Homo sapiens: one gene and its partners. The protein of the gene in region 1 purifies or fractionates together with the protein of each later gene. This does not show direct contact. Each region holds a gene or a part of one and is shown on either strand. Other genes may lie near its edges. The genes, in order: MSRB3, KLHL7 and BTBD9.

The links.
Region 2: the proteins of MSRB3 (region 1) and KLHL7 purify together in Homo sapiens (affinity purification with mass spectrometry; 2 studies listed by BioGRID and IntAct, with this or other methods). This does not show direct contact.
Region 3: the proteins of MSRB3 (region 1) and BTBD9 purify together in Homo sapiens (affinity purification with mass spectrometry; 2 studies listed by BioGRID and IntAct, with this or other methods). This does not show direct contact.

Annotation. Positions count from the first base shown.
Region 1 is NC_000012.12:65,452,734-65,463,682, forward strand, and holds part of MSRB3 (methionine-R-sulfoxide reductase B3 isoform 2 precursor), read left to right. Parts: intron 1-994; coding exon 995-1,092; intron 1,093-10,421; coding exon 10,422-10,589; 3' UTR 10,590-10,949. UniProt on the Homo sapiens protein: Catalyzes the reduction of free and protein-bound methionine sulfoxide to methionine. Isoform 2 is essential for hearing.
Region 2 is NC_000007.14:23,107,939-23,118,887, forward strand, and holds part of KLHL7 (kelch-like protein 7), read left to right. Parts: intron 1-9,895; exon of another isoform or gene 9,896-9,972; coding exon of another isoform or gene 9,973-10,026; intron 10,027-10,949. UniProt on the Homo sapiens protein: Substrate-specific adapter of a BCR (BTB-CUL3-RBX1) E3 ubiquitin ligase complex. The BCR(KLHL7) complex acts by mediating ubiquitination and subsequent degradation of substrate proteins. Probably mediates 'Lys-48'-linked ubiquitination.
Region 3 is NC_000006.12:38,586,414-38,597,362, forward strand, and holds part of BTBD9 (BTB/POZ domain-containing protein 9), read right to left. Parts: intron 9,655-10,949; exon of another isoform or gene 9,357-9,654; intron 7,963-9,356; exon of another isoform or gene 7,923-7,962; coding exon of another isoform or gene 7,915-7,922; coding exon 7,551-7,914; intron 6,428-7,550; coding exon 6,163-6,427; intron 1-6,162.

The DNA of each region.
Region 1 (10,949 bases):
CATTCTGTTTTCTTTCAATAGGTGTATTAACACAAAGCACCAGGTTCTTAACGGGCTTCTTCCTTTCTGCAGAAGTAAATGTGACTTGTGAAAAAGAAAAAAAAATTGCACCAGCACTTCAGCAACATCGCCCCTCTTTCATCATTTTGGGGATTCAGGCTTCAGCTCAGTAACTCCAGACATATTTTGGGGAAACATAAAAACATGCCCATAAGTACTGAACATAAAACCTGACTGTACACTCAAAACATTTGTACAATCCTATGATCCATTTACCATCAAGTTTCTTAAAGTGTGCATATATTTTTAAAATCACTAGAATAAATAAAACTTTGAACTAGATGCTCTTTGAGATAAGGTGCTGCCCAGAGATGTCTGAGGACTGATGCTCTATGAGTCTCTTATGAAGTGAACAAGCTTCTTGCCCATAAAAATAGATAGATGCTATGATTTCCAGATAACCCTTTTTCCAGGAAATTAGATGAGGATGGTGACAACAGGATAGTCGTTTTGTTAAACAAAATTTTAACTATCCAAACTAGGTACTGAAAAAGCTTGCTTTCTAAGGAGGCATGGAATAGTTGAAAAGTTAACAGCCAGACCAATTGATTGTGTTTTGGAAAACATCGTAATGGAAGATTCATAGTGCTTCAGGGCCATGCTGAGTGACTCTGAAGACAAGAGAAAGAGTGGTGAGAGAGAGCCTTCTAAGTTCAAGGATACTCTAGAAAACTATTGGATGGTCTAAGAATGTCTCATGAAGCACCAAACCCTAATGCAACTGTAATCTGAATATGAGGAAAGGGTTAAAAAATAACTGTACTCTTGCAAAATATATTTTCCTTCAGCTTTTGACCTTTCTTTTTTCAGGTTGAAAAGTTAAACATACACTAAGGATTTTCATTATTTGCTTAGTATTTCTTTAAAATGCATTCTAACCCAAGGCTGTGTATCTCTCCTCTCTGCTTTGATTCTTGTGCCTGCTGTGTCCCAGGTTGGCCTTCATTCCACGATGTGATCAATTCTGAGGCAATCACATTCACAGATGACTTTTCCTATGGGATGCACAGGGTGGAAACAAGCTGCTCTCAGGTGAGTTCATCCTTTCTGAAAACCCAATACATTGCTTTCAGGACTCCTGGTTGTGCTAAATATAGCAACTAAGGCCAAGCGACTGGTCACAAGAAGGACAGACAAGCATGACGAAGTTTATATGAAGTCCGATGGATGCCTATGTTCAGGTGTTTAGCAAGTCTAGTGGAATGTTAAGGTCGGCATGATAGCTCAAGCCTGTAATCCCATACTTTGAGAGGGCCAAGTGGGGAGGATCACTTGAGGCCAGAAGTTCAAGACGAGTCCGGGCAACCTAGTGAGACCTCGTCTCTACAGAAAATATTTTAAAACTTAGCAGGGCATGGTAGCATATGCCTGTAGTTCTAGCTACTCAGGGGGGCTGAAGCAGGAGAATCACTGGAGCCCAGGAGGTCGAGGCTGCAGTGAGCTGTGATCATGCCACTGTAGTCTAGCCTGGGAGACAGAGCAAGACCCTGTCTCATAAATTAAATAAATAAATAAATAAATAAATAAATAAATAAATAAAATGTCAGTTATTGGCTTCACCACTATTAAACAAAATCATTGGTAGGAAAAATATCATCTTCAATTGGCTCAGTAAATTGAAGAGTGGGCTGTTCTTGGGGCATATGAAGATTTCATTATGTGGCTTTGAATAACCTGATATTTTGATAATCTCCCTCTCCTTGCAGTTCTGTGTACCCACTGTTCAGTCAGAATGCCTCTACTGGCAGTGATCCAAACACAATCAAGGAAGACCTCAGAAATGGCTTTTCTTAGGTGGGTGTGAGGAAGGTGGTTGAAGAGAGGCTGTAGGAAGTGAAAGTTCAGTGGTAGGTTGGCTACATGAGATAAGGTAATTCCTTTTCTGCTTCTCCTGATATACAGACATCCTCATTTCCAATAATTTCCTAATTAGTTCTGTCCATCTGCTTTAACCAAATTAATGCTGGCTCTAAGGAAGCAAATGAGCATGTGTTGAGGAGGAGGCAAAAATAGTTAATCTGACACCCACAATCGAGAGACTTGAACTTGTGGGTATTTTGTGCTTAAACACAGAGACATAGAATCTCCATCTACATGGAATAAGAGCAGCTGCATATTCTATGGAAGGCAATCTTGTTCTTTCAACCTGCTTTAAATAAGTGAAATGTAAAGTCTGCAATATTGTGGCATTGAAAGTTATTGACACCACAGGGTATTTTGTTGGGGAATCTGTTGGACATATCAGAGGTACAGGAGCATGATCAGGCAGCTGTAATAGCAAAGTGATTGCCATATGGGCCTCCCTCAGCATTCTTTACCTGCCCTTTATCCATTTTTCTTTAACCCCCTCCACCAGGCACAAAATGTTTAGGGAGTAGGTGGCATATTTACTACCAAGTAGGGAGGGAGGTTAGTTTGAACCTAACCTTCTGATGAATTTTTGTTTTTATTAAAAAAAAAAAAAAAAAGACTGGCAAGTCTCCTGTCCTTCAAGTGTGAGGACTACTCTCTCTCTTGAAAATTAGACTTCATATTTTATCTGAATCACATTTTCAGCTCACTCTTGTTTCTCAGAGTGGAGTCTCTGATGGTGATAGTGGAACTTTCTGGTGCTGGGTTTCACCCACAGAGGGTCTAATGTAATTGGACAGGTTTAGTGTGGGGAGCAGCATTTTTAAAAGCTCCTCTGGTTAGTGCTCACCATAACCTTCTGAGGTAGGTCCTTTTTTCTCTCTGTTATTTTACAGTTGAGGAAACTGAGGCACAAAGAGAGCAATTAAACTTGGGTCAGCTTATGTGGATTTAAGTGGCAGAGCTGAGACTTGAATTGGGGTACTCTCCAGAGCTCTTTATGGTGCCCAGATAGATAGACAGGTTGAAAAGAGTCATTAAAATTTAAAAATCTCATGATTTTCCAGCAGTTGGCTTAATGCGATATAGTTTGGGGTTTTTTTTGTTTTTGAAATGGGATCTTACTCTGTTGCCAAGGCTGGAGTGTGGTGGCATGATCTTGGCTCACGGCAACCTCCACCCGCCGAGCTCAAGCAATCCTCTCACCTCAACCTCCCAAGTAGCTGGGACCATAGGTACACACCACCACATCCAGATAATTTTTTGTATTTTTGGTAGAGATAGGGTTTCACCATGTTGCCCCACTGGTCTTGAACTCCCGAGCTCAAGTGATCCACCTGCCTCAGCCTCCTAAAGTGCTGGGATTACAGGCATGAGCCACCGTGCCCAGCCTGCAATTTAGTTTTAAATTCAATTAAATTTGATTGATGATTTTATAACTGTCACAAAAAGGTAAACTATAAGTAGGATGGCTTACATTAATTTGTAACTTAGGTACACAGTATTTAGTAAACCTCTTTTAAGACTAATCGTTGTTTCTTTTATTTTCTTTTTCAAGCTACAAATGCTGTTACGTGATCGTTTTAACTCGTTTTCACTCAGAACCCATTTTCAAACATTGAATCTTATGAAAACTAAATTTAAAAGGCACAGAAAAATGAAGCATAAGATATTAACTTTACTTATGGCCCTACTTTCTAACCTCTTTGTGACAAATTCTTATAATTCACTGTTGGAATAAGCTTCTTTCTTTCTCTGTGCCAGTCACATAGATAACATCAGTAGTAGTCTAGGAAAGATCATTATGAAGATGTCCTACAGTGACCAAAGAGAAATGAAACCCACAAACAATGCCAAAATTAGGCAACATTCCTAAAAGAAGTCAGGCTAAACCAAGCATAGCTGTTGGCCCCTCAGTTAAAGCCCAAGGTGACTGTTCCTGTTCTTTCCTAACAGTTGTGTGATGAACCAACACTGACCTGCTCCCTTTTGGCTTCTTTTTCCACAGCCTTCACTTTTCATATTTAGAAAGTGTTTGACTCTTTCTTAAATAGAACTCTTAAATTTAAAGAAAAGAGGGAGAGGAATTTGTTCCGCTAAGGCATGTATGAAAATACACGCTTTGGAGTAAAGTAAGTTCTATGCAGGAGAGAATGAGGTTCCAGCACTAACGAATGGTATGTGTGCCACACCCTTGCCCTTGTGGATGGAGGAGGGGGTGTCTGCCACCTAAGCACAAAAACAGCGTACTGAATTCAAGTGGACTGGGTATCTTTCATTTCAATTTCTCTGTCTTTTATTTGTGTGTTCCATTCACGTTTATTTTCCTTTTGTTTTATAATTTTCTTTCTTTTTTTAAAATTTTCCTTTTTCTCAGGCATCTTTTTTTACCTTGACTTGATAAAATAAAAGATTTAGTAGTTCCCATGCTAGAGCAGTCACTTGTATTTTACTTCCTAGTTTCTCATTTTTAGCACTATTTTTTCATTATCTGTTTATCTTCTTTTACCTTACAGTTTTTCAGTTCATGTAGTCTCTTCTTCTGCTCAGAACTTCTCCCGTTTATTTTATTTTATTTTATTATTTTTTATTATGCTTTAAGTTCTGGGAAACATGTGCAGAACGTGCAGGTTTGTTACATAGGTATACACGTGCCATGGTGGTTTGCTGCACCCATCAACCCATCATCTGCATTAGGTATTTCTCCTAATGCTATCCCTCCCCTAGCCCCCAATCACCTGACAGGTCCTGGTGTGTGATGTTCCCCTCCCTGTGTCCATGTGTTCTCATTGTTCCACTCCCACTTATGAGTGAGAACATGTGGTGTTTGGTTTTCTGTTCCTGTGTTAGTTTGCTGAGAATGATGGTTTCCAGCTTCATCCATGTCCCTGCAAAGGACATGAACTCATCCTTTTTTATGGCTGCATAGTATTCCATGGTGTAATTGACAAATGGAATCTAATTAAACTAAAGAGCTTTTGCACAACAAAAGAAACTATCATCAGACTAAACAGGCAACCTACAGAATGAGAGAAAATTTTTGCAATCTATCCATCTGACAAATGGCTAATATCCAGAATCTACAAAGAAATTAAACAAATTTACAAGAAAAAAAAAAACAAACCCATCAAAAAGTGGGTGAAGGATATGAACAGACACTTCTCAAAAGAAGACATTTATGCAGCCAGCTTCTCCCATTTTTTAAGAGTTTTATTTTATTATTATTATTATTATTTTGCTGGTGAGATAATGTGGGAAACTATTCTGGTTTGCTCTCTTTCTAAAATTCTTGTTGTATTCTTAATTTACGTGGCTTGTCTTTTCTCTGGACTGAGTTGCCTCAATATGGTTTGTGTTATAAAAAATCTATTAGATGCTTTTAGTGTGTTGTAGACATTTTCAGTCGGATGTGTTATGTGGTGTATTTCTTTCCTTTTGGTAAAGATGGAATATCTAAATACGAAGAACCTTTAACTGCCAACTTCTACAAATGAACTGAGCCTTCATGGACAAAACCTGAATCAACTCAACCTGATCAGCAGTTTGGCAATATGGCAATATTTCATTGTTCTTTTGGTTCCTACCTAATTCTCACTTCAGTGCTTAGGATCCTTTTTTAAAAAAAATTGTGGTAGGGATGACACCATGCATACAGTGAATTAGGCCTCATATTTGCATAGGAATTGTAGACTCATTGGGAGCCAATAGCCTACCACCGCTTTACAGTACATTGTAAAGAGGTTTGTCCATGTGTCCAGTGACTTCTCAGATAATGTTTTTAGTAAAGATTTACTGAGAGAGTTCAGATTGGTTCAGTCCTATCACCACTTTTTCTAGAAGTGTTGCAGTGAGGTTCTTCTAAAAGAATTGTTGTGTAGGAAACAGCACACTGCCTAATCTTTGCATTGACAGCACTGAAAACAAGCAAGGGTCGGAGAGATTCTTCACTGTCTTCATTATAATTGTTGCTTATGGGTACCCTGTTATATTCTGATTTCTGTTGCAATTTTACTTGTTCTCTTTTGTTATTCCACCTACTGAATTGAGGAATTACATTTCAGTTATCTCTTCCAAAGAGGATCTTCATCTTAAATTTACTCGCTTTGGTGGGCACATGTATTTTCCCTCCAGCTGCAGCCATCTTGTAACAATTTTCAGCTATAAAGAATTTTCCTTGATTTAATTTATATTTTCAACTAGTGATAAAATACATTGCTTCTATTCCAGTTTCACTGACTACTATGAATAATTATTCAACAGCCTCTCCCTAATCCTCCAACCCCAGCCTGTTAAGCAACGCTTTGTCAGGAGTTTAAATTCAGTGCAAAGAAGTAAGATTTCCACAGTTTAACCTGCAGTTCAGTGAAGTAAGTTCCTTCTAGAATACTTGGGGAATTCTTCCTTCTTCAGATCAAAATCCTCCAGCTGGAGCAAATGGGAGACTAATAAATCACTTAACTTTTTGTAATATTTTTTTAAGGAAACCATCAGATCTCTGAATTTACCCACGTTGGAGTCTATTTATGAGTGCTGCTATTACTGCTTGAGTCTATGGTATAGTCCCTTAAGTTTGTTTAAGATCATTATTAATTTGTTCTAAGTCAGCCAAATCAACAGAAAGGTAAATATGCACCAATAGAAAGTATTTTTCAAAAGTTAAGCAGTTTTTGGTAAAAACCCCAAACCTTATTAATCTTCTACAGATGACAACTCACATATTGCTGATGATTAAAGATACACATGTGTTACAATAGGGCTTCAGACTCACAGCCCATCTCTCTTTTTCTTGATCTTTCAGTAAAATCATAATGCTAAACTGGTGACTTCACAGTCATTTCCTTGGCAAAAGATTAATATCACAAGCACAGAGGAAAAAAAGCCCCCACTTACACACAAGTGTCTTCAATAACAGTGGGAGAAAACAGAATACTACTGGCAAAGTAAATTGCTTTTCTTCTTAAAACTTTTCCCATCCTGCCCCATGTGTCCAAGTGTAAAAGCCCTGCTTTGAAAATGCTTCATTTCATAGATCAAACACTTAAGAGAAAATGACAATAATAAAGCCCAAACATCCTAGGAATAGCTAGGAGAAAAACCTCTAAGACAGTGGGAAATACATCAGTGCAGAAAAATGTAACTGTGTTGAATACACTATTTGTGTTTCTTATGTATACAATTGAGAACTGCAGTCAGATTTTAAGGAATTATGTTAAACTTGATGCTCAAACACTTATTTTAGGGGGTCCTTTCCCTTGGTTCTCTGCAGGTTCTTTAGCTGCCAGCTTTTCTGAGTGGGAGGCTTAGGTGATAAAGGATTGTTGTGAGAATTCAAATTTTTTCTTTTGAACAATCATCTGATGCTCTTCAGAATGAAGACCAGTATATTCAGGTACATTTACCTGTGAAATAAAGAAACACATAACCATTAAAAACAACATTCAAAATGCACACTAAAGATTCTATCCTGAAATAAATCATTAACAGCAGGTCTCAGAGATTTCTTCATCGAGCAACCAGTTTGTTTCAGTTACAACCAGGTGTACTGAGAAACCCCAACACATTGCCAGTTGGCTGGGGCCTGGGAGGCAGAGCTTGCAGGCAGCTAAAGAAACAATGCTCCTCTGGCAACTTCCATTTATCCTCCCAGCTTTCCCAAGGCTAGAAGCTGCAAAGAATGGGCTCCGTGCGCGTACTCTCAGGGAGGAGCCTTCAAGGCTTGTGCGCTTTTCAAAGAAACCGGGTAACAGTCCTTTCTGGGAGACTAGGTTTACCTGGGAGGAGGCTCGAATGGCACTGCGTGGTTAGGCTTCCCTCAGACAAATGGCTTTGCCGGCAGTGGGGCGGGGATGTATGTGGTGCCACAGATACAGATGAACACCTTTCTATGTTTTGAGATGATGCTCTTCCCTTAGTAACCTAAGGCTGCTATGACTCTTCCAGAACACCCTGTGGCAAGTATAATGAAGCCATAACTATCATTTTCAGGGGACTCAAACCGTTTCTGAGGATTTTTCTACCCCCATCCTCAACCCATATATTTGTTAGCAAATAGTTTTCATAGTCTTTTTCTAACTATAATTTCTCTTCCTCACTTTTTTTTTTTTTTTTTGCCTTGGATTAGGGACACACCTAGAATCAGTGTTTTCCTTTCTATTTAACCAGAATACTAGTACCAGATTAGCAAATGAAACTACAGGTTGAAAACTCACCCAGTTCAACAGATTCAATTACTGTAATTTGGATTTTTAAAATATGATTTGGGAAATTAAGACCATATAACTCATTCTTAAACACCTTCAAATATATCCTCACTATGCTTTATTTTTGGTGTAGAATAAATAGAAATATTTTCTAAAGATGCTCAAGAGATTATTAGCAAAGGCAATATCATTTATTTTTCCCAGATAGCTGCATTCTCTCATTAAACACACACACACACACCCCTAAGGCTTTTAGGTATATGAAAACTTCATCTCTTAAATGCCAAGTGATCCAAGTGCTGGAGCTGCATCTGAGATCAGTAATTGTGCACACACACTGGTCACTGAGAGCACTGGTTCCTGTTGGACAGCACCTTGACTATTTTGGTAGGCAGAAATGGGTGTTTCCTGTGTCCGTTGGGCAAGCATATGTATTTTTACTGGTTCATCTTAGCTGTGGATGCCTAAAAATTTGGCATCAATTGTTTATAGAAAGGAAAAGCAGTCTGACCTGTCAGCCTTGATATTACCTAAACCTGCATCGAATGTGGTAAAATAATACAAGATTTGTTTTTTAGGCCTGTTTCATATTTTCTAGGCAATAGATCAAATCAGTTCAGGGTTCATTTTTAGCTCTTTAATAAACTGACAGAGTTTGCTGGCAGTGAAATGAGAATGCACTTTTAACATGGAAGTGCCATACAGTCAAAGTTGCTATTTCTGCTATTTATTAATAACTAGGGAATACTTGAGAATTGAGCTTAGCATGTTCAACAGGGAAACTAAGATTCTAGTGCTTTTCATTGTAATGAGCACTTTCTCTCATTTTTCTCTCTTCATCTCCATTTGGTGTCTCATCCCCAGTCCCTTGTGAATTCATACTCTTTCCTTGAAACTTATAAGTGTTTTATACACCAAATCAGCACAGTGAGAATTAACAAATCATTGATATGCTTTTTCTCTCATACTCTTACCTAAATCTTGACTCTTCCCTCTTCTCGAAATGCCCTCCCCTAGAGATACACTTCTTCCAGGTCCTTATTCCAAAGTCACCCCAGGTAGGCCTCTTCTGACCACCCTATCTAACATTTCATATCACCTTCCTTTTTTGCTCCCTTAGCATTGCTTTCTACCTTCCATGCTTTATAGTTCACTTGTTTTCTTGTGTACTGTCTGTCTCTCCCACTAGAATGTAAGCTCTATGAGGCCAGGGATTGTTGCCTGTACTCCAGAGTCTAAAACAGTGCCTGGCATATAGCAGGCACTCCATTAATAAACGAATGAATGGAAGTCATTTACCCCAGGCTTTGGTTTCTTTGATCCATGATAAATGATGGATTTTCACAGCCTGCTTGAATATGGTGCACCAGTGTCTCCATCTCGTTCGCCCCATCCCTGATGGAAAAGGGCAGTAGATATCTAAGTGTGACATGTACCTTCATCTCCTGGAGCTGTACCCAGCATCAACGCAGTTAGTGTAGGGGTGTTCACTGAGCCAGCCTTTTTGGAGAAACTTTCTCTGGGCTTTATTTCTCTCAAACACCAACATGATGTTCCTTCTGCCTCTGTCTAGACCTTAGGTCTCTTCTTCCCCAGCTTTTTGAATAGTCAGTAAAATTGATTTTAGCTAAACAGCTTATTGCTTTTCTTTATATTAGAGTTCATTTGGATAAAGAAGCCAGCATGACACTACTTGTTGGAAGCCAGGAAAAAAACAATTGTGTGTGCTAGAGATGTTTCCTTTTGCTACATTTGCAGCCCTGGTGACTGTGACATAAATCTATTGAGCCTTGCCATTGCTTCGCTGGGTTCCAAGAACATCCAATACTTGTCTGATGTTAAGTTTTACTGCCCATGAAAGCAAACATCACCTCTGTCATGGCCAGTTAAACAGTATCTTTTCAGTGGACTTCTGCATATCTGAAACCCACCCATCCAAAGCCAAAAGTAATGCCGGGGGAAAGATTTTATGCTGCCATGTTTCTTACAAGGGAAGATCAAGGGTCAACTTGATTCATAAAATTACTGCAGTCATTTTTCAGCTGGCTGAGAGACTTCACAGATCAAAAAATACGTGGCTCCTAAATGATTTCTGATATGCACAATTCTAGTGTTTTTTGTTCTCAGCATGTGGCGCAAAGCCTGCCAGAAACCATCTTTGCGGCTATTGACAGGCGGATTAGAAATCATCCACGATGGTTTCCTTCATTTCTCTACAGGCTGGTCATCCATTTAAACTGCTTAATGTGAATTCCTCTCAAAGCCTGCTTTGTACATGCTTTTCCCTGACGTTTTGTTCTTCTCTTTCAGTGTGGTGCTCACCTTGGGCACATTTTTGATGATGGGCCTCGTCCAACTGGGAAAAGATACTGCATAAATTCGGCTGCCTTGTCTTTTACACCTGCGGATAGCAGTGGCACCGCCGAGGGAGGCAGTGGGGTCGCCAGCCCGGCCCAGGCAGACAAAGCGGAGCTCTAGAGTAATGGAGAGTGATGGAAACAAAGTGTACTTAATGCACAGCTTATTAAAAAAATCAAAATTGTTATCTTAATAGATATATTTTTTCAAAAACTATAAGGGCAGTTTTGTGCTATTGATATTTTTTCTTCTTTTGCTTAAACAGAAGCCCTGGCCATCCATGTATTTTGCAATTGACTAGATCAAGAACTGTTTATAGCTTTAGCAAATGGAGACAGCTTTGTGAAACTTCTTCACAAGCCACTTATACCCTTTGGCATTCTTTTCTTTGAGCACATGGCTTCTTTTGCAGTTTTTCCCCCTTTGATTCAGAAGCAGAGGGTTCATGGTCTTCAAACATGAAAATAGAGATCTCCTCTG
Region 2 (10,949 bases), on another chromosome or scaffold:
GGAAACAATTGACCGAGAATGACTGACAAGGGCAGTTGATGGGAATTGGCAGAAACAGTGGCTGGTCTGAGCCAGAGTAGGAATGTTTGAGTGAGGACCAACTTTATAAGTGCTCTTGTTCTTTAGTAAATATTTTTGTGTTATGACTACTTTTACATCCCTTTACAATCTCATTGCTTTAAGGATCAGGATAATGAGTGCCTAGATGACAAGGACCCCTCTGTAAACATCCAGAAACATTCCTTCAAGAATTTGAGAACATTGTGAGATTAGCATACCTCAGTTCCAATCCTGCTCTCTCATTATTTCATTTTGTTATTTTAGATAACATGATTTGGGTCATTCCATCTCTCTGTAGTATAGTGGCCGATTCTATACATAGAGGCAAAAGGGGATTCTGCAGAGCCAGCAGCCTCGGCTTCTTCTAAAGCCTTTTCCTACATTGTTTTTGTCATTTCTAGCCTTTTGTTTCTAAGTAAACTCTCCAGTGAAGTATGGGATACATATAAGAGGGCACAAATCATAAATGTATAGCTCAATTATTACAAAGTGCACATCCCACCAACAAGACGAGAACATGACCAGTACACCAGAGGTCCCCCCTTATGCCCTTCTCAGTCACCAACCCCACAGTAGTAACAACTATTCTAACTCTGTAACCATCGAAGTTAGAGCAGAAGCAACCATTGATAAATACCATGCCATGCCATCTTCTAAGGGCACTATGCACCCCTGTTATTAAGAGGAGCTCTTTGTTCTGTCTTTGGTGTGTGGTGCATTCATGAAAGTCTGCAGCACATCGGCAAAAAGTGGGTTTTTCCTGTGTTTGAACTTATATAAATGTAATCATATGGCATAAACTCTTGTGTTTTGTTTTCTTAAAGCCAACATTGTTTGTGAGATTCATCTGTGCTGTGTGTAGCGCTACTTCATCCTTGTGGTATATAGTATCCCATTGAATGAATATAGCACAATTTATCCATTCTATCATTATGAACATTTGGGTTATTTCTAGTTTGGAACTATTAAGACTAGTACTACTTTGAACATTTTTGTACACTTTGTACATGCCTTTTGGTATGCATATGTATGTATTAATATTTGTGTTGGGAAATACCAAACAGGAATTTTTGAGTCATAAGCTATACCACCTTCAGCTTTAAAAGATATCGTCGTGTAGTTTTCCAAAGTGATTGTACCATGTTACGCTTCTGCCAGTTGTGTGTGAGAGAGGTTTTTGCTCCGCATCCCTGCCATCACTTGATGTTGTCAGTCTTATCACTTTAGCCATTCTAACTGGGTGTATAGGAGCATCTTATTTAATTGGATTGAGTACCTTTTCATTTATTTCTTTAACTTTTTGCTTAGATTAATGTTATTACCTGATATGTAAAATAGAGGCTTTACAAGGCAGGTCTGGGTCACAGTCACTATTGCACATGCACATTGCTGTTGCCATACTCTTCTTTTGTGTTAATGAAGTCCAGGAGTCTCTTAACATTGGAGGAAGATGTTTTAAGACCTTCCTGAGTACCACCATAGTTTATAGTTTCTCCACATTAAATGAATTAAAGCATAACTGGAACTTGAAAGCTTATGTTAAAGTCCTTATTGAGAGTTATGTGAGAGAACTACAAAGCTGATTTCACAATTAGATACTGGGCAGTTAACTGGGCTCACCTTCCGGCTAAAATGACTTTGCTTCTGTATTCTCATCTGTCTGACTGTAAATTACTACATGTCATTATCTTTAGGTTCTCTTGTGAATAATCTAAACCTTCAGTGTTAAACCCTTGATATTAATAAGACTTCTTGAGCACTTATAACTGTTCCAGCCACTCTGCAGAGTGTTTTACATGCTTTGTCTCATTTAATTCTCTTAACTTTCATTGACAATTCCAGTCATCCAGACCTTCTTATTCTTTTTCCTGTACTTTACTGTTTTCTGTTTTCTTTTTCTGTCTGTCCAGCTTAGAAGCTATTGTCACTCCACTGTCTCTCCAGTGTCCCAGTTTTCTTGACCCTCTGTCCCTTTTTCATGTCCATCTGGCAAACTTGAGTATTGATGACTGATTACCTTCTTTGTGCAAGGCTCCAAGCACAGCTGGAAAATATCTCACTGGGCAACTTCTGCCAAGTAAGTGCTTGGCCACTAATTTCCACTAGACTATCAGTGCCCGTGAGCAATCTTTTTGTTTTACTATTTTCCTCCAATCTGAGTCCTTTCTCTAGATCCTCACTTTCAGCAGATCACCTTCTTTTGACACCATAGATAAATAGAAGTCATTAGTCTAGAACTGTCTACCTTTTCACTTTCTACCACCAGATCTATAAACCTATTTTGACACTTTCCCTTTTCTCTTCTTATCCTGCTACAATGGAGATGCTGCTGCTTTTTCTAAGGCCAGTACTTCTACCTAGGCTTTGGCTTCCTGGATGCTGGGCTTCTCAGAAGTATTATACTGTTGGTTATTCCATCTTTGTTGAGCATCTTTAACTTTTCTTCTTTGCTGGATTCTTGCTATTAGCACTTAAGCTTGTTTTAACCTCTCCAGCTTTTGAACCAAACAACCAGCAAACCCATTCTTAATCTCAACATACCCCTCTAAATACTTCTCTCCCCCCATTAAGATGAAAAGCTGAGTAAATTCACTACATTTTCTTTTGTTTTTTTTTTAATTTTATTATTATTATACTTTAAGTTTTAGGGTACATGTGCACAATGTGCAGGTTTGTTACATATGTATACATGTGCCATATTGGTGTGCTGCACCCATTAACTCGTCATTTAGTATTAGGTATATCTCCTAATGCTATCCCTCCCCCCTCCCCCCACCCCACAACAGTCCCCAAAGTGTGATGTTCCCCTTCCTGTGTCCGTGTGTTCTCATTGTTCAAGTCCCACCTATGAGTGAGAACATGCGGTTCACTACATTTTCTTACTTACTATTTATTTATTACTCTAGTTCAATTTGGCTTCCAAGTTCATTCATTGAAATGAATACTTATTGACAACCCACTGTATGCTAAACATTTTGCTAGATTCTGGGGTTGCAATGATAAGCAAACCCTGACAGTCCCAATCCTCTTGTGGTTTATAGGCTAGTAGAAAAGCAAGACATTAGTCAAGTAATCACACAAATAAATGTAATATTGCAACAGTGGTAGGTATTACACAGGAGAATAACATGGTACAACGAGGGCATATGGGTGGGTAATTTGACCATCAGGAAGTTTTCTCTAAGGAAATGGTCATTGAGAGCTGAAATAAGAGTAGGTGTTAACTAGGTAAAGAGAAAAGGGAAGAGTGACTCAAGTAGAGGGAACAACATATTCAGAGGCTCTGAGTTGGAGACCTACTTTATTATAGAATGGCAAGTTCGAGACTGATTAAAGGTCAGTGTAATTGGAGCACAGAACATAAGGCGGACGATGGTTCTAGATGAAACTGGCGAAGTAGCTAGAGACCTGCCCATGCATAGCTTCATAAGTCAAGTTAGGTGATTTGCCCTTATTCTAAAATCTGTGTATGCATGTTTGTGTGCATGTGCATGCATGTTTGTAGAGATGGTATGTTTTCTTCTTTAAAAAAGATGACTTGGCCTGGCACAATGGCTCACACATGTAATCCCAGCACTTTGGGAGGCTGAGACAGGTGGATCACCTGAGGTCAGGAGTTTGAGACCAGTCTGGCTAACATGGTGAAACTCCATCTTTACTAAAAATACAAAAAATTAGCCAGGCATAGTCGCACGTGCCTGTAGTCCAAGCTACTCAGAAGACTGAGGCAGGAGAATTGGTTGAACCCGGGAGGCAGAGGTTGTGGTGAGCCAAGATTGCACCATTGCACTCCAGCCTGGAGACAGAGTGAGACTCCGTCTCAAAAAAAAAAAAAAAAAAAAAAAAAAGACTTACTGCTTTGTGGTAAATGAATTAAAGAGTTTTCAGAGTGCTTGCTGGCAGACCAAATAGGAAGCTGTAGTGGTCCAGTGAGACATGATGGTCCTTTGGACTGAGGTGATGACAGTGGCAGCCATAAGCAACATCAATGAAGAAAAAGTGATAGATTAAAAAGATAATAAAATCAACAGGACTTGGTGATGATAACTGCCATATGTGGTTGTGATAACTAAATTAGGTAACCAAATTAAGATAACTTAAAATACGACCTGATAACAAGTAACATCTCAGTAAGTGTTAGCTATTTGTATTGTGATGCTGGTACATGATTGGATGTTGAGGGATTCAGCATAAGGTGTCACTTATGATCTCTAGGGTTCTGGAATGCATAACTAAATGGATGATGACACTATTCACTGAGAAAGGAGGTATTGGAAAAGGATCAAAGCATTGGGGAAAGGATTATAATTTGTGTTTTAGATGTGTTTAATTTGTGATATCATTGTGACACTGAAGTATATATGACAAATTGACAGGTCTGGAAAGTTGTGGGTTAGATGTATATATTTGTGAATTATCTGCATATAGAAGATAACTTCTTCATTGAAGCTGTGAAGAGTCAAGAGTCCAGAGTCCAGAATAAAGGATAGAAAATGGGCCTATGGAGGAGATAACAAAGGAATCACCAGAAGAATAGGAGAAAAATGAGAGTTTCGAAAATTGGGAAGAAATTGTTTCTCCTTCCCAGCAAGTCAGGATGGCCAAATGGTCTAAAGCACTGTATTCACAGGAGGACTGCAACTTTTGAAGCTGGTAAAAGATCAGAATAAGATTAAAACTAAAAATACTTATAGTAGGACATAGCAACACAGAGTGGTTTGTTGACTGTAGTAAGACTTATTTTGATGGGCAGACAAATGGGAATCAGATTAATGTAAGCTGAAGTGAGTAGAATATGAGGAAATTCTGGCAGCTGTTTTGAGAAATTTGGCCTTGAAGGGAGAGGGAGTCAAACGAAGGTTGCTGGGTTTTATTTGTTTAAATGGGAAAGATATAGGTGTCTTTAAAAACTAGTGGGAAAAAGAGATGTAGAGGTTGGATATATATGAGACAGAGTGGGCAATTAATAGATAATTCCTGATATGAGATCCAAAGCAAATGTGATTAATCTCAGACAGGGGTGGCGGGGCAGTTCCTCTTCCATAAGAAGTGGGAAGAAAGAGGGGATTGATAGTAGGTGTGTTTGGAATCAGAAGAATGAAGGAGTTTCTATCCAGTGATTTCTCTTTTCTCTAAAAAAAAAAAATAGAATGAGATCATCTGCTAAAATGAAGGAGTAAGAAGGCAAAGCTGGAGGTTGAGGAATGTAGTCTTTGCGAAGAATAGAAATGGTATTATGGCTGTCAGTATTTTTGAAGATTCTTTTGACATTGTTATGAACTTACGTTGAATATTAAGCTAGCCTTCAAAGCCCTGTCTTTTGTTCTTTTTACCTGAACAGGAGGTAAAAATGAGGAGGCTAATATAGGCAGGTCACAGTCTTAACTTTCAATCCCATGGAAACATTTTTCTATCACTTGGTGGAATCACTTTTCTTTTGGGCCTCAAAATCTCTAAACTAACAGAACCCACTAGCAGAAAGACTAATTGCTGAGATTAGAAGCAAAATTTTTGTAAGTGAATCATTAAGTATAATATTGAAGGGAGCCAGGCCGGGCACAGTGGCTTACGCCTGTAATCCCAGCACTTTGGGAAGCTGGGGCAGGCAGATCACTTGAGGCCAGGAGTTCACGACTAACCTGGCCAACATGGTGAAACCCCGTCTCTACTAAAAATACAAAAATTAGCCGGGTGACGCATGCCTGTAATCCCAGCTACTCAGGGGGCTGAGGCATGAGAATCGATTGAACCCAGGAGGCGGAAGTTGTTGTGAGCCGAGATCGTGCCATTGCACTCCAGCCTGGGCAACAAGAGCGAAACTCTGTCTCAAAAAAACCCCCCGAATATTGAAGGGAGCCTCTTCCATTTTTTGGTTGCCAGGCTGTTAATTCTTGCTACATAGAGACCATGCTGTCTATATAAATTATATCAGATTAGCTTATTTGAGAATGAATTCTGCTACATAAAAAAGAAGCTTGAAAAGCACGAATGTAAGAAGCTGAAAGGAAATGAGGCATCTTGAGCTCATATCTACCTCACTTCCTCACTTTGTCAAATGAGAGAGGAGTTGCTAATCTAATTAAGTTAGAACTGAAGACACTGTTGTTTTATTAATGGTAAAGTTACTCTGTTGAGGGCTACCTTGTTGTATTTAAGGAATCCATCTGCTGAGTAGGACAGGTAAGGTATGTGTTATGATGGACTCCATAAGCTGGGTTTGGGCCAAACCATCTCTCATTTTTCCCATGTAGGACATACGACTGTGCAGCTTCCAAAATTTAGATTATTGGGATATGTAGGGGCAATTTAAAGTTTGGCTTATCAAGCAAAGCCTCATTTTCCAACTTTGTTTTATGAGAGAAGCACTGCATATGGGAGATTAACAAGTACTTGCCCTTCAGTCAAAAGTGCATCTTCTTATGTCTCGTTTGGTTATTGATACTTCCTTATATAAACAACCTGAGTTGAGAATCTCAGTGGGCTGAATGATAGAATTCAGGCACCAAAGCCCCACCCCAAACTCCAGCACAAAGTAGCTGGACCAAGTAGCTGTAAGTTCTTTTTTCCAAGTTTGCCTTGTCTTTTGGTCTATTTTCTTACTAGCTCAGGGAATGCTTTGTTCTATCTTAAATGCTTATGTGGCTACTTTCCTCTACCAATAACTGTTCTTTTTTGTATCATCCGAATACCAGCTTAAGAGGTTATTTAAATTTTTACCCAAGAAAGCTTTGAAATGGGTGGATAACTATTAACACCAGGCCTTGAGATACTACAGGCTGGCAATTCACTTCTATTTCCCATCTCAAATTTTTCTAAGCCAAGGTGTCATAGCTCTCTAGATGTTCTGTGGTGAACCAAATGACAGCCTAAAGCACTCCATATAATTCTGTATTAGCAACACAGAATCTCCCAAATCTGACTGTTATGAGCCCTCTCATGATTAAATTCCAACATCTATGCTCATCCTCTGAATTAAAATGAAAGGCAATTGAATTCCAAATATGTGCTCACCCTGGTTTCTTATACTGTTCAGTTTAGTCAGCCAGAAAGCGTTTGCTTGAGTGTTTGGGTACAGTCAGGGTAGCTTCTTCAGCAGCTGCAATGTGGGCTGGCTTCCATTGGAATGGATTTAGTTAGCTTAGCACCTCCAAAGCTGAATTTGTCCAATTTCAAGGTAGTTGATGCCACACTTTCCGGTATGTTAGAACGTCCCTAGGATTGATATAAGAAGATCTCTCATCTCTGTACCAAACAGCCCAGATGTTGACATTTTATTTATACAGTCCTAACCCACATTATTTTTTGCAGCCAAAAACAGAATATAAACTTTGGTTTCTGGGGAACAGAGGGTTTTCAAAGAAAACATAACAATCTTGGCTTTTGGCTTGCCAGTCTGAATCAGCTTTCTGTAATCTATAGACTCTAGGGCTAAACTCAGTTGGGAGGAATCTTCCATGCTTATAGGGGCACTGTTTACCATCTATAGAAGAGATTTATTCAATGTATATTGATGCTTCTCTGGCATAGGACTCATTTTGGGTTTTTTTTGTTTGTTTTTTTTTTGAGATGGAGTCTCGCTCTGTCGTCCAGGCTGGAGTGCAGTGGCGTGATCTCGGCTCCCTGCAACCTCTGCCTCCCAGGTTCAAGCATTTCTCCTGCCTCAGCCTCCCGAGCAGCTGGGATTACCGGGCGTCCACCACCACACCCGGCTAATTTTTTGTATTTTAGTAGAGACGGGGTTTTACCATGTTAGCCAGGATGTCCTCGATCTCCTGACCTCGTGATCTGCCGGCCTCAGCCTCCCAAAGTGCTGGGATTACAGGAGTGAGCCACTGCGACTGGCCAGGACTCATTCTTTTTCTTAGACAATTGTTAGAGATTTGCCAGGGTGATAATACTCAGCTACCAGGTATCATAGAGTTTCCCTTTTTTCCCTATTATCCATCCTGCACATTTAAAGCTTAATTTTGATATCTTTTTTGAACCCTATGTTCCTGGCAACCTAATGCTGAAATGATTGAGTTCTATCTAATGACAAAGCCTTCTCTCATTTTTGAGAGGAGAGTGATTTACATTTGTAGCCAGCAGTTCTGCAGAGCACAGTTTGTGGCCTTGCATTCCTTACAATTCTGAGCTTCCTGATTGTTCTGCACTTTTGTGTGCCCATTAAGATCCTGTCATGCTGTGAAATTCCTTGTATCTATGAATCCTGTCTCTTGGAGGGGTTTGTCCTCCTTTCCTCTCCATTTGTCTCAGCTGGAGAATGGCCTTTAACATTCCTTTAAGGCCCGTGGTCCCACAGGGACCACTATGGCCCTTACAGCATGCTCCTCAAAACCTTGCTTTTCCTCAGTATTTGAAATTTCTAGGCCTTGCAAACTCAGCAGCAGCGCAGACATGTTCCTTTCTGTCACCTATTTGTGTCAAAATGGGCTATGTCTCTAGTGTTGCATTTTCCTCTGTGGTACATCTGTTCTTTCAGGCAGCCTCAGCTGACTTGTTAACCTGCTTAAGTTGGATCTTTTCCTTTCTACATCAGGTAGCTGACCTTTTTAGATTAGAATACCTTTCTTTTTCTTTTCCTTATGATTTTGGTGTTTGTTTTGCTTGCATACATATTCCTCTAATGCCTTTCCTACAGAACTTCCCCTAGTGGAAAATAAGAGAGCACATGTGTTCAGAATTAGCTCAGCTACTGCCAGCCGTCACTACTCTCAGAAAGGTAATTCTAATTGTGGGGATGTCCAGCATATAACTTAGAGCTGGACTACTTTTGGGTTATTTGACTTACTTTAATGTGATCTAGTACTCTCCCTTACAGTCTTAATTCCACAAACTTCTCAGTTCCACTATATACCATATGCCATATAGCAAATACCACACCTGTCTTCCCAGCAATATCACCTTGAAAATTACTTAATAATGCAAGAAATACTCTTGCTGATCTTTCTCCTTTTCAAATCTGTCTGAACTTAATTGTAATGGCCTATTATAGTTGTCCTATTCTTTAAGAGAAATCCTCTAATTTTCTCTTAATATCTTTAGCATTAAGAGGAATCATAAAATTTTCCTAGAGCCAGGCCTTTTTTTTTTTTTTTTTTTTTTTTGAGATCAAGTCTCGCTCTGTCACCCAGGCTGGAGTGCAGTGGCATGATCTCAGCTCACTGCAACCTCTGCCTCCCGGGTTCAAGTGATTCTCCTGCCTCAGCCTCCCGAGTAGCTGCTATTACAGACGCGCACCACCACGCCTGGCTAATTTTTGTATTTTTAGTAGAGTTAGGGTTTCGCCATGTTGGCCAGGCTGGTCTTGAACTCCTGACCCCAGGTGATCCACATGCCTTGGCTCCCAAAGTGCTGATCCAGGCCTTTCTGAGAGAACTGTTTTAACCTACTCCTGAATTCTTACTTCTCTTCTTCTATTCCTGTTTGGTCCATAACACCTTCCTTGAATAAATAACAAAAATAGCTTTTTTTTCTTAGTCCCAGCTCTTAAAGGGCAATTATGCCCAAGTCTCCTTTCCTTTGCAAAGCTGTTTGGCCTGACCTGGCATATGTTTCCCTTAAGGAAGGCAGTCCCTCTTTTCCTTCTGCTTAGTCTAGGTATCTTCCTTTGTTTTTCCTTCACTATCCCACTTGCCTTATTCTAATTGTGTATGTGTTTAAGTTCAATCCTGTTTTTCTCTGCTTTTCTGACAAATGTGATTTCTAGAGAAGTCTTTTTAATGTTTCTTAGCCTTTGCATTTATTATTGCTTTATTGAAGCTTTTCTAGTAACTAATCCAAGAAAATTATTTACCCCATCTAATAAGGGCCTCATTTCCCTTTATGTTTTCAGTGATTTAAATCTACCACCCAGCTGTAGTTGAATCTACAATCTGCTCAGGGATTTATACTCAATGCCAATTTGATATCATGCTGGGAGGGACTGATTGCAGAACCTTCTTGACAAGCCACATAAATCTAAAGGTTAGTCATTCCTCAGTCTTCTCTTTGGGATATAACAAAGAATAGAACGTGGGGCAGTTGACTGCATGCCTCTTACTAATGACAGCACATGTGATTAAAAGCTAATCCTCATACAGTGCTTTAGCACTTACATGGACCCAACTGCCTTTTGTAATCCTGTCGAGTAAACTTGATAGAGAGCAAAAGGTCATGATACCAACAGATGCCTAAAATGTCTGCTGCTTCTGAGGTGAGCCTTTACTAGAACCAAAGGATTCTTCCTGTAAAAGCCCCCAAATCTTTCAGGCACTAAAGCAGCACCAAAGTTTCTTTCTTTATGACGCGTTGAGTATCTGTGCATACATATTTGAGGACCCGTCACTACTAGTTCTAACTATAGGACATTGACCTGAGCATTAAATTGGGCTTTCTATTCTTTCTTCCCTAAACTAAACTTACCCACCCAGTCTGAGGCAGAGCAGCTGATGAGCAGGAACAGTCCTCTCCTGCCAGAGGAGCAACCCTGCCCCAATGATTGATGTCCCACTTTTGGGGCAGACCTAGGAAAGAAGAATGAGCCAGAATGCCTGGCTATCTGTTGTCGGTGTCCTCTGCCACACTCTTGTTCATCCTGTATTCACTCTTCCACATGTGATGGATGGAGACTGAAGCTTCCTTCTCAGTACTTACCTTCCCAGGGGAAGAGGGAATACATTATGAGTGAGGAATCTCATGGTTCCTTAAATGATTAAGTTATCTCAGTATCATTTTTGATTATCTGATCTCTTATCACATTATTTCCTAGACTTTTTTTTTAAGAGCAGTTTTAATTTCATAGAAAATTTGAGCCAGGTGTGGTAGCTCGTGCCTGTAATCCCTATACTTTGAGAGGCCAAGGTAGTAAGATTGCTTTAATGCAGGAGTTGGAGACCAGCCTGGGCAAC
Region 3 (10,949 bases), on another chromosome or scaffold:
TTTAAGGGGGAAAAAAAATCCCTGTAATTTGGTAAAAGCCTTAGGACATGCAGCTCTAAGAATTAAACTTTACAGTAACCAACGATAATAAATTCAAAGAAAAAGCATTAGTCTCTATATCCCAGTCCCAAGATAAAACCTCTCTACACTTCATGAGAAGTCCCCAAAGACACAGAATCTACATCCAGATTCTGAACAACAACAACAACAAAACCAAATTCTGTCAATAACTTCAAAATAAACAGACCTATCTTTTCAAGTCGTCAGCCCAGGAACACTTCTGAAATTTTATATCCTTTTTTTCCCCTAACAGTGAAGAAATTTGATAAAAGAAAACAATGTCATGAATGTTAAGATAACATTTACTGGCCAGGCGTGGTGGCTCATGCCTGTAATCCCAACACTTTGGGAGGCTGAGGCAGGTGGATCACCTGAGGTCAGGAGTTCAAGACCAGCCTGGCCAACCTGGTGAAACCCCATCTCTACTAAATATACAAAAATTAGCCAGGCGTGGTGGTGGGCACCTGTAATCCCAGCTCCTCGGGAGGCTGGGGCAGGAGAATCACTTGAGCCCAGGAGGCTGAGGTTGCAGTGAGCCGAGATTGTGTCGTTGCATTCCAGTGTGGGTGACAAGAGTGAGACTCCATCTCAAAAAAAAAAAAAAGGATAAAATTTACTTAGAAAATAACCTATTTTTGGAGATTGGGTGGGCCCACATGAGCCTACAAGTGAGGTGCAGTGGCCATGGAGGGCAACCGAGGGGTCAGTGACCACAGACTCCCTGCAACACCCCAGCCTGGCGGCCTGACATCGGCCCAGTCAGTGGAGACCTGTGGAGAGGTGGCGGTGGTGGCCTCCACAAGCCCTCTTTTTCTAGGGTTGTATAGATAGAACATCCTGGAGTCCACCATGAACAGACAGTTGGACCTAAGTGGGAAGGTAATCATGAAAGCTCAACTTGGGGAGGATATTCCAAAAATTCCTATTCATAATGAAGATATTAATATTACTTATGATGAATTAGTGCTAATGATGCAACGAGTTTTCAGGGGAAAACTTCTGCGTAATGTTGAAGTAACAATAAAGTATAAAGATGCAGATGACGATCTTATAACAATTTTTGATAGTTCTGATCTTTCCTTTGCAATTCAGTGTAGTAGGACACTGAAATTGACATTATTTGTTAATGGCCAACGAAGACCCCTTGAATCAAGTCAGGTGAAATATCTCTGTCGAGAACTGACAGAACTTTGAAATAAAGTGAATCACTTATTGGATAGCTTGGAACCACCTGGAAAACCAGGACCTTCCACTAATATTCCTGAAAATGTTACTGTGAATGGTAGGGAAGAAAAGCCTGCTTCTTCGGATTCTTCTGGAAAACAGTCTACTCAGGTTATGGCAGCAAGTATGTCAGCTTTTGACCCTTTTAAAAAACCAAGATGAAATAAAAAATAATGTTACGTCGGCATTTGGCTTAACAGATGATCAGGTTTCAGGGCAACCCAGTGCTCCTGCAGAAGACTGTTCAGGAACATCTGACAGCATTGCCGCCTCCTCCTCAGTAGCAGCTCACCCACCAGGAGTTCAGCCACAGCAACCACCATATACAGAAGCTAAGATACAAGCAGGTCAGACTGAAAGTCAGCTGTATCAATAGTACCAGCAACAGGCTAGCTATGGTGCACCGTGTCTGCGGGCTCTACCTCAGCAGCCTCAACAGTATGGTATTCAGTATTCAAAAAGCCAGAGTCAGCAGACTGGACTCCAAACAACCTCAGCAGTTCCAAGGATATGGCCAGCAACCAACTACCCAGGCACCAGCTCCTGCCTTTTTGGTCAGCCTCAACAACTGCCTGCTCAGCTGCCACACAGTACCAGGCAAGCAATTATCCTGCACAAATTTATACTACCCAAACTTTTCAGCCTACTAATTATACTGTGGCCCCTGCCTCTCAACCTAGAATGGCTCCAAGCCAACCTGGGGCCTATAGACCAAGATCAAGTTTTACTTCACTTCCTGTAAGTAGCATGACCCCTCCTCCAACTGGGCCTAATCCTTATATGTCCTCCCTTTGGTCAGGGCTATACCAAACCTGGACCTGGTTATCGATAACGAGGCTTATCTACACCAATTAATGTAGCTGCTAGCTATTGGCCTCCCAAAAGACTCCAGTACTGTTTTAATCTGTAATGAAGTTCACAAATTTTAAAAGCAGAGCATTTGTTATATCTTTGTTGCTGTTAATTGAAAGTATAATTTGCTGGAACACAAAGACCAAAATCAAAGTTCTTTCCTCCCTGCTTAAAAATATAGCAACTTCTTAGTTATTTTGGAACACTACTCTTACATGTATGTAAAGTGATTGACCTAGCTTCCCTTGTCCAGAGGATATTAAAATGCTAGTGTAAGGTTTAGTCATCTTACTTGGCTTTCTGCTATTAACATGATGTACTAAAAGTAGAGCCCTTTTAGAATACGACTAGATGTCATGTATAAAATGTAAGACTGATAGATTAATAAAGATGATTGAATTAAAAAAACCTATCTTTTCAGGGTCTGACAGGGAAGTGTAATGCTTCCTTGTATTTATATTATTGATTTTATTATTCACATGCTTTAAAAGTCAGGAAAAACAGACTTACTTAATCATTACTCAAGTTCAGAAGTTAGATAAAGGATTCCCAAACATTTACATAGTCTCTTCCTTGAGCTCCCCCTCATTCACTTCAAAGTGAAGAATTTAACATTGATGAACAACAATCTGTGTATGTGTCATTCCAGAACTGAGTGACTCAACTGGCTAAGTTCTCCCTTTCGCAACTCATCTCCTGAGTTTCTTGTAACCCAGGTACTACCCTTATACTGACCAGTTGATCAATTCCAAACTACCAGTAACCATGTGAAATGTCCAAAACAAATCCTCACTCCTGCAAACATGTCCCAAGATTATCCCTATAATGAATCCAGTTCTAGGGCCTTTTCAGCACTTCAAATCAAATGCAGGGCAAGAGAGGGAAAGGAACTTATATAAGACAGGATCCGACATGATAATTTGAAAAGCCTAACACTAATTACTCATCTTACTACCTCTTCACTTGCCATCCTCCCACACTTTATCCAAGGCTGACACTTAACTAGTACCATTCTCTAGCACCTCTGATTTCTTCCTGGACCTCTCCCAACCTGATCTCTCTAGCTACCATACTATTTTTTTACTACCTTACAATCCAATTCACAAATCAGACAGACAATATGTTATCTCTATTATCTTTTCAAACATCCATGGCCTAATTCCCTGGCAGCCAATCTTCTGTCCAGATTACTTATCAACTAATCACAATTTATATCCAAAAGTTGTCTCTCAATTTTCTTGACCTCCCTATCGTGAGCTACCATTGACCATTGGATCCATAGGAAAGCTCTCTCCTCCGGTTGTCCTCTGTAACTCTATTCTATCCCAAATGTCTTCCTTCTTCCTTCTCTACCTTAAGTCCCCTGGCAATAGGTTTTCTCCAAGTTTCAGACTTTGTTTTTTACTTCTTTTTCTATACTCTAGCAGCTCAGGTTTCAACTCTTTTATCACCAGCTTTGACTGGTCCTAAAGAGTAATGTGTTCCTATTTCCTATTAGACATTTCTCCCTGCATTCATTCACTAAGCATTCACCAAGCATTCACCAATTACCCATTATATGCTATTTGGTGTGTTAAATGTTGAGGATATAGAGATCAATAAGGCCTATAAAGATCATCTCTGCCTTCAAGGATCAAAGACAAGTAAACAAAAATGTTTAAAACAATGTGATCAAGGTGGTAATTCTCACACAGATATACACAGAAAAAAAAACACATCATAATGATATATGGTAACAATGGTTTCCTATATTGAGCTTGCACACATTATTTTAATTAAGTCTCATAACAATGCTAGGAGATATAAAAGGTAAAATTCCTTAAATAATTTAATACCAGATTGTACAACTAGTAAGTGACTAATTCAGGATTTGAAGTCAAATTTGTCTGGGCCAAAACCTATGTTTCTTCTCCTATGCCCAGTGAAAAGAAATCTAGACCTGATAAGTCAGGAGAGAATTCTGTTAAGAACATCTATTTAAGATCAATCAGTATTTCAAGAGAATGTTTAAAGGCATAGTCAAGAAGAGATAACTCAGGGAAATGACTAGTTTGGGACAGAAGTTACAACTTGCAACCCCAAAACCCTCAAACTCAATCTAAAAATCAAGCTCAGCATCTTCTTCAAAGAAGTACTGTACTGTATTTCATTACAGACATACCTAGTGTTCAAATTTTTAAATTTCTGAAATCGCAGTGTAGACATCATAGTGTGTCACAGTTAATTGGCAGTATTGTTTCTTTTCTTAGTGGAACATAAAATAATGGTGCCTGAGAATTTCTGGCTTCTTAGATTTGATAACAAATGGTAACTTTCTCCTAAACTTAATCCCCACATTTATATCCCTTGAATCATCAAGATCTATTTTTTTCCATTGTATCCGTTCTAATCATCCATTATTTTCCATTTTCCCTGCCACCAATCTGGTTTGAGGTAGTATCAATTGTGCACAGATTAAATACTCTCCTCACTGGTCTCTCTGAATCAGTTTTCCCCTATTCTAAATACTCAAATACAGCACTATGGATCAGTCTTTCAAAACCACCACTGCATGCATGCCACTCTCCCTCTCTCAAATTGGTTCCTCACTGCATGTAAGGGAGATTCCAATCTAGTTTCCAAGACTTCCATAAACTGGCCTAAGCTGACCTTCACATAGTTTCTTTGCTATTAATCAATAAAAGCCTTCTACTCTAATCAAGCTCTTCTATTTATGGTCTCTTCAAATGCTCTAACCTCTGTCTATTAACCTCATGATTCTTCCCATCTGAAATTCACCCAACTCTTATACTATTCAAATCAAATGTCAAGGCTCAACTCAAGCTTCATAACCTCCATGAAATCTCCCTCAACCATACCAAGCCACTTCTTCTGAAGTTCTATAACATGTACTCCCTTGAATATTGTTGTATTTAACTTTTCATGGGAGTTTATGTCTTATTTCCACAATGAAATTAAAAGGATCAAAGGCAGAGACTATGTTTAACAATTATGCAGCATAGTTTAGTGGTTAATTACACAACTTCTGGAGCCAAACTACATAGGTTTGACTCTCAGCTCTGTCATCTTTCTGTGTGACCTTGGGCAAGTTACTTAACTTCTCTGTTTCAGTTTCCTCATTGTGTAAAATGGAGTCAATAACAGTATATACCTCAAAGAGTTGTGAGAATTAAATCGTGTAGGACCTGTTCTTGATACATACTATGCACTCTGTAAGTGTTAATTGCTATAAATCCATTAATAAGAAAAATCACCACTTAAGTGGTGATAAGTATCATAAGTGTTAGCTACCTTATGTATGTATGTTACATAAGTGTTAGCTATTATTATTGTTATTTAGAATCTCCATGTTCAGCCGGGCGTGGTGGCTCATGCCTGTAATCCCAGCACTTTCTGAGGCCAAGGCAGGTGGATCACCTGAGGTCAGGAGTTTGAGACCAGCCTGGCCAACATGGTGAAACCCCGTCTCTACTAAAAATAAAAATTAGCCGAGTGTGGTGGCGGGTGGCTGTAATCCCAGCTACTCAGGAGGCTGAGGCAGGAGAACCGCTTGAACCTGGGAGGCGAGGTTGCAGTGAGCCGAGATTGCAACTTCCATTCTAGCCTGGGCAACAAGAGTGAAACTCCATCTCAAAAAAAAAAAAAAGAATCTCCATGTTCATGGTACCCAAAATAATAAGTACATAGAATGTACTCAGTATTTATTTGATGGAGGAAGGAAGAAAAGGTCTTAACATGAGCAGCAGCTTTTTAGGAAAGTGTCCATTTCTGACATTCTGGGGAGGAGTTGAGAAATCTGTCCAGGAATGGCAAGAAATACCTATTTGGGGGTCTACAAAAGCTAATCAATCTCAGGAGGAATTAACAGGAAAATGAAAGGGAAAGACATTCCATAGGCTAGCTGTTTATAAACGTACATATTTCATGTACACCTGCACTACACGGTTCTGTAGTAGCTTTGCGGTTTTAATGGCATGAGAGGCATACCAAGCTTCTTGGTTGAGTTTAGGATAGACAGGTACTTACTGAGCATGCCTCTATAATTGAGGTCCATATCCCGGCTCTCAGATCGCACTTTAATGGCATCCAGGATGGCATCAGGAGACAGCAGTCCTGAAGGCCTCACAACATTCAGAAGCTCTGTGAGGCTCATGAGAGGTAAACGCACAGCCTGCATGATTTCAGCATGATTCTCCTTTGAATTGTGCTTACACCAGTTTAATAAGGCTAGGAAAATATCTTTTTCGGGAGCTGCAAATGAGTCTCTTAACACGATGTTTAAAAGTGCTGTCTGAAAAGGATAAAAAGGTAAAATTCCAGTTATATGAAGTTCAACCACTGCATGACCAATCAGTAAAAGCTTACAGGACAAGTATAACTTAGCCAATTAACTCTTTTTGACCCTCTCCTTCCCTTATGCTTTGTGCCACATATTCTCCTACTCATTATGGCTGTGTAAACAACCAAGACGGTAGCACCATTCTTTTATGTTCAGGTATCTTGTACCACTACATCAAACATTTAATCTTTCCAAACACATCTGCATTCATCTTTTTTAAAACAGCAAAAAGAAAAACGCCAAAGTGAAAAGCTGTCAATACATTCAGATTCTTCAAGAGAGTGTACATTGTTAAGTTAGAAAGACATATTTGGCATTTAAAATTCAAATTTTGTTCCACAGTATTACTTCACTACCATACTTTTGGCTCTCAGATCTCCAAACTGACCTCCAGGAACAATGTTGCAACCCTCAAAGATCATTGTCTTTAAAAATTAAGTAGAAAAAAATGAAATAGGATAACACAGATCTTAATTTACACTCAAATCAAGATATGTAGCTTTTCAATAGATTTTTCTCATTAGAAATATCCAGGTTCTAGAAGGAACACAACAAGGCAAATGGAGAGACAATCACTACCCAGAGTTCAAAGGAAGATTTGAGCAAAACAGTTTTACTCTAGCTATAATACTGAATTTTAAGCCAGCAAAAAAAGCAGGGACTTAAAGACATCAAATGTTGCATCAGATCTCCTCTATGAATTTGCCTGCTTGCTCTAAGGAATTATTAGTCACACTCTCTGTCAGAGAAAAACAAAACCAAAAGGTAGTATGCAATACCAAAAAGGACCCTATTTGATTGTCACTACCTTGAAAACAACCACACAGCAGCACAGTCTCTTTTGCACATAAAACTTACCTGAAGAACCTTAAAAGAAAACACAACCAACCAGCCCCTCTCTTTTATGATCTAGAGTCCTGGTAGCTAGATGCAAGTGGCTAGACCAGATAACCAATGATAACGCTTTGATACCAATGATTTTTTTTATTATTCTTAGTCCATTGCTATACTTCTACAGTATAGGTATAAATAAAACAATGCATGCCTATAAATTACTTGTAGACAAATGACACACCTTAGAAAGGGAGAGGAAACCTTCACTTGAGAGGACTTCCTGAGCATTCCTATCCATAAACATGCAGCACATACAAGTTAACTTGGGAAGTGAGTAGAGACTGGCAACATCAAAAGTCATGCAGACATTCTGAATGTTAAGTATGGTGCAGAGATACTCAGAGGTAGAATCCTCTAGCTCTGGAAATCCATATTTATGAGCCAGGCTCAAAAAGTCCAGCAGCACCTCCTCCTTCTCATCTGTCAGCGTTGCCCGCCCAGTGTAGATATATTTGAGTAGCATTGTGAATGCTTCTGCAGTGGTGTCTTGGAGAGGAATTTCTGCTTCAGGCTGAGACTCTCGCATTCCACCATATAATAATGCTCTGCACATCAGGGAAGAAACACATGAAGAAACCCTCAAATAGGATTTGCTACAAAATATTGGAAATAACAGTTATCAACATTATGCAAATATAAATTTTTTTAATGACACAAAGATCCAAGTGAAAAAATGCAAAGTAATCATTTAAAATGGTTCTTTACAGGACACAAGAGGAATGATTTTAAAACTATTTGAATTAATTCTGTAAGCCACTGAACTAATGAGATACTCTGAAAGCTCAAGATATGTGACAGATATTAAATAGAAAGATGAGAGTGATCTTTTGAGAGGCACAATGAAGTTGATATAAAGATGTTAAAGGTCAATAAGGCAATTTAAAAAGTAAAACTCTATAGGAAAAGATATAATCAGATAAACACTAATATGATGCCATTCTCCCCTGTAAGACTGGCAGAAATTAAAAGGCTTGTTAATATCAGTGCTGCAAAAGCAATGGAAAAACATGTTCTTTGATATGCTGCTTTGAGAGTATAAATGGCAGCCCTTTATGGAAAGTAATTTAGTAGCATCTAGTCAAATCTAAAATGTGCATACCCTTCAACTCAGTAATCTCTCTTTTAGGACTCAATTCTAGGGAAGTAATACAGTAAAGAAAAATGTGTAAGAAAACATACTGAAACACTAGTAAAAATCTGAATGTCCATCAGCAGCAACATGGTTAAAAAAACTGTGATATACGCATTCTATGCAGCCATTAGAAAGATCAAGGGAGATCAACAGGTACTGTTTTGAAAACATGTCCAGGATATGGTAGGCAAGTAAATAAAATTGCAGATCCATATGTACTGCATTAAAAAAGTACATAACCAAATATTTACATGTTTATGCACATATGTCTACATCGGTATTTCTTTAAATCAAGAAAAATCAGAAGAAATTCATATTAAACTCTTAACATCACTTATTTCTGGGAAATGGTATTAGATGGCTGGGAGACAAAGACTTTCATCTGTTACTTTATAAATTAAAAATGAAATTACTGATAGGATTACAGTGATTTTTTATTTTTTTCCTTTCAGATTAAACAAAAAGCCCTACATTATTGCTTATCTAAAAAAATGAAAACTAGACAATCCAGTTAGGTAATGAATTTGAATTTCTACCTCTATCAATCAAGAGGAATAATATGAACCAATTAAACTTCCAATCTATCAGGAAAGAAAGGACGAAGAGGACAAGGGAGAAGTGCAGAAAAGGGAGAGAAGAATACAGAATGAGAAAGAAAAGATGCAAAAGTGAGAGGAAGAGACTGGAAATAAGAAAGAGATTCTCCGTGTTGCTAAAATTCTCAGAGTAGGACTAGCATTTCAGGTTTACCTACCTGGAACTTGTCCCACCCTCCCCCAGGACCTAGCATTCTTGCTTGCCCCAGAAAAATAGTTGAAACCACCCAGAAAAGATTCATGAATATTCTGAGCATACCTCTTCACTGGGTTATACTCTGCCTAAAAGTACCCCTGAAGGTTTCCATTAATCCAGAGAGCATCCAACCATTACCCTAAAATTACCAAATTAAAGAACTTCTCCTTCTCGGGGAGACCTCAAGACTTATCCCCAATCCTGTATGATCCATGGTATTTATTTGGATTCTCAATGCTTTAAAAGTGGTTTTGATGAGGCTCCCTTGGAACAATAAACATGAACCCCCAACTTCAACAAGGAGACAAGCACAGAGGTTCAATGTTTACTATGAAGTTTCCTCCTATACAATTCCTTATCTGGGAATTGATAGGCTATTATGACAGCACTTAGGCCTCTTCTGACAGCTGACAATTAACATTCCTTTGCACATGAATACAGTCAGCATTGAGAACCTGTCTAAGGTAGCATTGAGCTTAGCTCTAAGGTAGACTTAGAGGTAGAGCTTAGCTCTAAGATAGTCTAAGGTAGACTCTGAGCTTAGCTTAGTGAGCCAGCAAATATTACGAAGGTTCAATATCTACAAAGACATCAAGAACAAGGTCAATAAGCGGGGGGAGTATATTCCATTCACTCAATACGATCTTCAAATTTCTCAAAGTATTTGAGTTTTTTTTAAGGATATACTAATCACCTAAAAGATATCCTCATAGAGTTGTTTCAAATTATTTTTGAAAGAGGACAAGGTACACTGTACTAATAAACAATAAACACAGGCTGAGAAGTTCTGACTTAATAAAAAGTGGGCTCTTGGCCAGGTGCAGTGGCTCAAGCCTGTAATCCCAGTACTTTGGGAGGCTGAGGCGGGCGGATCACAAGGTCAGGAGATCCAGACCATACTGGCTAACACGGTGAAACCCCGTCTCTATTAAAAATACAAAAAAATTAGCCGAGCGTGGTGGCAGGCGCCCGTAGTCCCAGCTACTCGGGAGGCTGAGGCAGGAGAATGGCGTGAACCCGGGAGGCGGAGCTTGCAGTGAGCCGAGATCGCGCCACTGCACTCCAGCCTGGGCGACAGAGTGAGACTCCGTCTCAAAAAAAAAAAAAAAAAGTGGGCTCTTATAAAACACTTTAATAGTAATGACTGGACCAAAATTTTAAAAAGAGGAAGAAATATAAAAGGAAAAGTGTGCAGAGGACAGAGGCTGATAACAAATAATGGCTAGACCAAGGTCGGATGCCTTGGCAGAGTTGACCACTAGGAAGAATAGGAGAGTGCTAGAACTTTTAACAGACTCCTCACTTTTCTAAGCTCCCGGTTTCATCTACAGTGGCATTTTACATGTGTAAGATTGGAAGTTCATGAAAAACCATAGGAGCTCTAGCTACAGAGTAAATATTTCCAGGAGACACACTTTACCACAACATGTCTGACTCTAGGTGTTGCTGTCTTGCTTAATTCTGACTATAAAAGCCAGACACTGCAGTTATCACTACAAGGTAATTGAAATTTTCTCTAATCCAATGGAATCTCCATTTTAGATACCAAGTTTCCCAGATAAATCTATAACTCTGTGAACCATCTTTATCCTTAAAAATAGAAAAAGATCCATTATCATGCATAAATTATAACTCACTCAGTAATTAATTCAGTGA